2 separate regions of the Homo sapiens genome follow, and region 2 is linked to region 1. The links come from fine-mapping of genetic effects on gene expression. A gene starts in region 1. The other region holds a variant in brackets. All regions are shown on one strand. Distances are between the middles of the regions. Region 1 holds the start of RNF32 (ring finger protein 32). Region 2 has its middle 86 kb from the start of DNAJB6.

Region 1 (2,903 bases):
CTTTACAAATAAGGAGCTCATGGTTTAGGAAGATGAGCTTGCCAAAAATCACACACTTGTAAAATAAGTCAAAATTTGAACTTAAGTCTACTTATCTGAGCCCAAAGTCTTACAACCATTTATGGCTGTTATCCTAACACCTACGTCGCGGAACGGAAGAGTCCTAAGACTGCAAAGACCCTTCCTTTTCTTCTAGATCCAGTCTAAGTTGGTTGGTAATTTCTTTAGACCCTGCTTTCAGGGAAGTTTAAAAAAAATTACTTGCATTTGTATATTTTCCTTGTATTTTCGGCCAAATTTCTTCTAATTAAAGTACAACATAAGTTGAACCAACACAATAATTGTCATATTAAGAAAAGATAAAACAAACTTTACTCATTTCTGCTTCTGGGCATGGAGTGTGAGGGACCAGACTTAAGTTCTCAAACAACTACAAAATCAGACCAAAAAATACAATGGTTTCCAGGCACCGGACGACAGGCAGTGCAGGGCTGTGATCCTTAAGAGAAGGGAAGCAGCGAGCCAGAGTATCCAGGCCACAACCCAAATGGAGGCCAAGAGAGGAACAGCAGAGGATACAGAGGGAGGGTTCCAGGGGCCAAGACGCAATCCGAGGGGAAGCCCTTCCGGGGAGAGCTGGAGTCCTGGGGTGGCCTTCTCGAGTCTTCCCGAGCAGGTCTGTGCAGCGAGGAAACATCCGAGGCTGGAGTGAGCCACGCGGAGGAGGAAGAACAGCCCGAGCTCACAGGGGCGGGGAAGAGTTCTAGCTCGCGACAGCCCCTGGGAGGAACCCTGCACTATTTGTGGCGTCGAGTAAAGCACCGGAAGGCTCTGCTCAGGAGCGTGAACGACACCGCCCGCTGCAAGCCTGGAAAGGAACGCGTTGCCTCAATTCACTCCGATGTGTCACACACGCGGCTCAGTCACCTAGGGAGCAGGAAAAGGCCAGCGGGCCACGCAGGGCTCACCCGGGCCTGCATCCAAACGCAAACGGCCAGGCCCACGAAGCAGGAAACACAACCCGCAACGAGAAGCAAAGGGATCCACAGAGAAGGGCCAGGAGTCACGGACGACGCCAGGCAGTCGGCGCCTGCGCTTCCGCGAGCCAAGACGCCTGAGCGGCGCGGGGGGATCGGGGGATCCCCCAGAAAACTGCCCTCGACTAACAGCGCAGCGAAGGGGCGGTGCGCTCGAGACCCTGGAACGGGAACGACCACAGCCACCGCAGGGAAACAACCGGGGCCCAGGCCCAGGTGGGCGGGCGGCTGAGGAGCGTGGCTGCGCCCACAAAGCCGCCGGGGGCTGCGGACTACAGCGAAGCCGGCGCGGGGCTCGGCCCTCACTACACGAGGCCTGGGCGCCTGCACGCCCCCGTGCTTCAGCCCGCGGCTCCCGAACACCCCCGCCAGGCGATCCCCAAAAACGCCCGCTGCGCGAGCCTCGACGGGAACGCACCTGCGTCTAGACGCTGACGCCGTGCGCGGGGCGGGGGCCGGCGAGCATGCGCAGTGTGGTGTGGACAGGGCGTGGTTGGCAAGCATGCGCAATGTGGGCCGGGCGGGGCTGGCGAGCATGCGCAGTATGGGGCGGGGCGGGGCAGGGCTGGTGAGCAAGCCCGCGGGGAGCGAGCGCGGAGGCGGGCGTTGCTACGGCAACGGTGGGCGGCCAGGGAGTTGCCTGAGGGAAAAGGGGCAGACGTCCCTGGGTTCCGGTGTTCGCGGAGGAGTCGAGGCACGGAGAGGCTTCGGGGGAGGGACGGAAAGAAGGGTGGCCCGCCAGGCGGGCGGGGTCCATGGATTCGGGGTGAGGGCCGTCCGCGGCCTCGCTTTCGCCTCCTCCGAGCCGGGCCGGCGATGGCCGCAGCTGTGAGGCGAGGTCGGGTCCCGTAGCGGCGCGCAGCCTCCTTGGGGGACTCGGGGTCCTGGTTAGTTTCCACAGCTCCTTCTATCTGAGGGGTACGAATTTACGGCTGCCTAAAGCCTTAGAACAGTGATCCCACGTCGGTAATTTTAGAACCCGGTAGGACCGGCTGCCATCAGGGGCCCCAGGTGCAGGGTGGTGTCAGCTTTGAGAGGAATTGGAGCCTCGTCACCGCGCGCTTCCTGCATGAGTGGAACCTCAGAAAACGGTCAGCGGGGTTCAGAAGGCAGGAGATAACACCAAGACCCTACGTAGGATTGCATCTTTACGTCGTAGGCTTGGTCTCGTGTATTTTTATTGAGCGTGTTTAATTAGCTGAGGTTACTCGCTTTGGCACCCCAGTGATCGTTTTTGCCACCAAGCTCTGCCTCTTGAGCGTTTAATACTGGGATTTACAAAGCAACGGGTTCCTGTTAATCTTAGCTTTCAATACTGGGCAAGGGTTACGTTTCTAACCCTACCAGTGCCGCAGGCTCATTATATATTGAAGGACTCACCTGGTATTTGGTTTTCTCATTTATAAAGTGGAGTTGGAGTAGGTACTTGAAGGGTTTTCAATACCTTTAAATTCTGAATTTTAAACTCTAAAACTTAATGATACCGTAGGACTTTAAGAGAGTATAGGTTTTAAAAGCTCTTACCTTGATATTAATGACAGTGGTCTACTGTGTAGAAACTTGAGATTAAATTGCAGACTGCAGCTATGACCGGACCATTTTTAGTGTGATGCAAACTGTATCTTCTGCAGGTTATAGGCATTTTGGAAGCAGGAACTGAGAAAATTCTGGCAGTGATCTTTCAGTATTTTAAATTCCACCATTTCTCCAAGTTCAGTTGTCTTGATGAGATACAGGGTGGAACTTATTTCAAACATCTCTTGATGCCAGAATTGAACGGGAACAGAAAAGGGCTGTAGTAAGAACCATCATCAAAGCCTCCAGGACTTGAGCAGCGACTGACGTTTTTACTTCTAACCCTGGATA
Region 2 (2,903 bases), 780 kb after region 1:
AAAGTGCAGTGGTGCGATCTCGGCTCACTGCAACCTCCGCCTCCCAGTTCAAGCGATTCTCCTGCCTCAGCCTCCCGAGTAGCTGGGATTACAGGCATGCACCACCACGCCCAGCTAATTTTTGTATTTTTAGTAGAGACGGAGTTTTGCCACGTTGGCCAGGCTGGTCTCGAACTCCTGACCTCAGGTGATCCACCCGCCTCGGCCTCCCAGTGCTGGGATGACAGGGGTGAGCCCCCGCGCCCGGCCCCATGGTTGTTCTCAGGCTGTGACACTGGGATGCATAAATCTTGAGATAATCCCTCTTGGTGTGGCTAAGCCAACAACTCCGTAGACCCTTAGCTTCATTTATTTTCTTTTACTTTCAACGTCTAGGATTTAAGAAATGTTTGCTGTAAATATGTGCATGGTTCCAAAGCAGAATTCACAAACAAGGCGCCCTCAGGGGAGTCCGGCTTCCGCACCTGCCCCAATGGGCTTTCATTTCCATTTGTTTTTATTTCCTTCCATTTCAATACATTAAACATAAACAAAAGTTACTTTTATTTATAACTTAATTACATAATATTTAAATAAACATGAGGCGATCCTTCACTCCCGCCTTTGCTTTTCCTTCCTGGGCGTCTGGAGGGCCGTGCGCCTCACCGGCAGACCTGCCGCATTCCGGACCTGCCCCTGCCCCCGCCCCGAGTTGCTCACCTGGATCCTCTGCCCCCTGTGCAGGTCCTGGGGGCCGTAGGACCTGCAGTCACACATCTGGGCCCAGCACAACCCGTGCGTGGGGCAGGAGACGCGGGCACCTCCTCCTGTGTGGCGGAGCCCCGTGCGCACCTGGCGGTCCTGCTGGAGACGCTGAGTGCAGTCACCGTAGGGGTGCTGGGGCCATGCTCCTCCAGGGTGTGGAGGGTCTCTCACCTCTGTGCTGGCCCTTCCACTCTCAGAGACTGGTAGCTCGTTCATCTCCCGCTGCCTTGCTATGCAGCGGCATCTGGGGTCTGGACTACCATTCGTGAGTGGCTGCAGAACGCCGGCCTCCTCATCCTGTTACTCATCCTGCCTTTATCAGCTTGATGTCTTCCGAAAAGAAGCCTTCCCGAGTTGAGCACGGTGGCTCATGCCTGTCATCCCAGCACTTCGGGAGGCTGAGGCAGGAGGATCCCTTGAGCCCAGGAGTTCCAGACCAGCCTGGGCAACTGAGTGAGACCCTGTCTCTACAAAAAACATAAAAAAGTTAGCCGGGTGTGGTGGCACACACCTGTAGC[T/A]CCAGCTACTCGGAGGCTGAGGTGGGAGGATCGCGTACACCCAGCTGTGATCATGACACTGTGCTCCAGCCTGGGCAACAGAGTGAGACCACCCTATCTAAAAAAAAAAGTCTTCCCTTATTGACTGGGCATTTGCTTGTACTGAAATGTACCTTCTACCCCAGATGAAAAGTATTAATTAACTGGAGTACATTGAGGGCCAAGCCCCAAGAGAAAGCTGCGTCACCAGGGAGCATTCGAAGGAGGAGGTCACCGTCTGCTTGGAGAAGAGGCACTCACTTTATTAACTTTAAATATTTTATTCCTAAATTTTGGAAGTAAAATCAACATACAGGGAATACCTGATCATTGGTAGAAAAACCAGAAATGCAGATATGAAAACAAAGAAATGATCCCTGCCACCTGGAGACCTTGTCTTGGTGGACACACAGCAGTCTGTGCTTTACCCAACGATATGCTGGGAAAGACATCGCATCAGGAAATATTTCCATGAATATTTTCGTGGCACAGAATTCCTTTGTACCGAGATGACTTCATCACAGCCCAGTGCCGTTCTTACTCCTGCGGGCTGACTTCCTGCAGGCGGAAATCCTGTTTTATTTTTTTGCCACTTCTGGGGAGGTTCTTGTTCCTACAGGGTCCCACAGGGTCCCTTCCTGGACTTGTCTGTTGTCTTTGGGGCGGATTCCCAGAAGTGGGATGGCCAGGTCAAAGGTCAGATGAGCGCTCATCCCTGCGAGCTTCTACGCACCCGCACTCCTCCCCCTGCCTGCCCTGGTCCTTAAGAGGGGTCCTGCCCTCCATCAGGTTGGTCAGGGCAGCTCCCCTGCAGCCCACACTGGCTGTGGACAGAGCAGGGTGCCTGGAAGGCGTCCCTAGATTCATATTTTAGAGGTTTCTGACAGTTTTTTTTATTTGGCAAAACAGTTTTCTCCTGCATCTGGAACCCTCCCAGGCGAGCCCTTCGGTTGCACTGAGGAAGGGCCACAATCGTGGTTCTTGGCAAGCGAGGCGTGGACATGGCTGGCGCTGGTGGGAGGCCTCAGCCGTGTGGGGGCCCTGTGTGTCCTGACGAGGCCACCCACGCGGCTGCAGGGCTGTTGGGCATCTCAGAGGGCGAGGGCGCCAAGGGGCTGGGCTCTAGACGCTGTCCTGGCAGGCAGGCGTGGGGAGAGTTGGGCTGGGTGAGCACCCGTGGGATTCCCGGAGGTTATTTGGGGATGGGAGCACCCCGGGAAAGATGGACTTCCCGCGTTTGGGTGCCTTGGGCCCCTCGTCGCTGGGGTTTGAGTGTTCCTGGCGAGGCGCTGCTGTTCTGAGCCCAGACCAGGGGGCGGTGATGCCCTGGGGACTCCTCAAGGGCAGGCCCTCGCCATCCCTGGGCGGTCCTGGGTTTCTCCCCGTGCTGACTTCGTTTCTTCTCAGGAGAGGACAGAGCGGGCTGCCACTGTCACTGCTGTGCTGTGTAGGTGCAAAGCCCAGGGCCAGAACCCCCTAGCCAGGGGAGGTGCAGCCCAGCCTACCGTTCACCTGGACAGGAAGCAGGCAGGGACCAGGGCTGCCTCTCAGAGCCGGGCAGGTGGTGCCTGGTTTACAAAACCCAAATTCAGGGAGAAGAGAGACCTGACCTGCAGCTTCAGA

What was found.
Region 2: its variant is fine-mapped to the expression of RNF32 in testis (GTEx, PIP 0.97).

The regions. Positions count from the first base shown.
Region 1 is chr7:156,639,081-156,641,983 of GRCh38, forward strand. It overlaps RNF32 (ring finger protein 32), which reads left to right and starts at 1,694. Exons shown (of 9, transcript NM_030936.4): 1 at 1,694-1,731. It overlaps RNF32-DT (RNF32 divergent transcript), which reads right to left and starts at 1,455. Exons shown (of 4, transcript NR_026865.2): 1 at 1-1,455. RefSeq lists an enhancer at 1,125-1,716 and a silencer at 1,285-1,594.
Region 2 is chr7:157,421,687-157,424,589 of GRCh38, forward strand. No RefSeq gene overlaps it. Among named protein-coding and RNA genes, the nearest start is that of DNAJB6, 86 kb to the left of the region's middle. The variant T/A (reference allele first, on the strand shown) is at 1,263.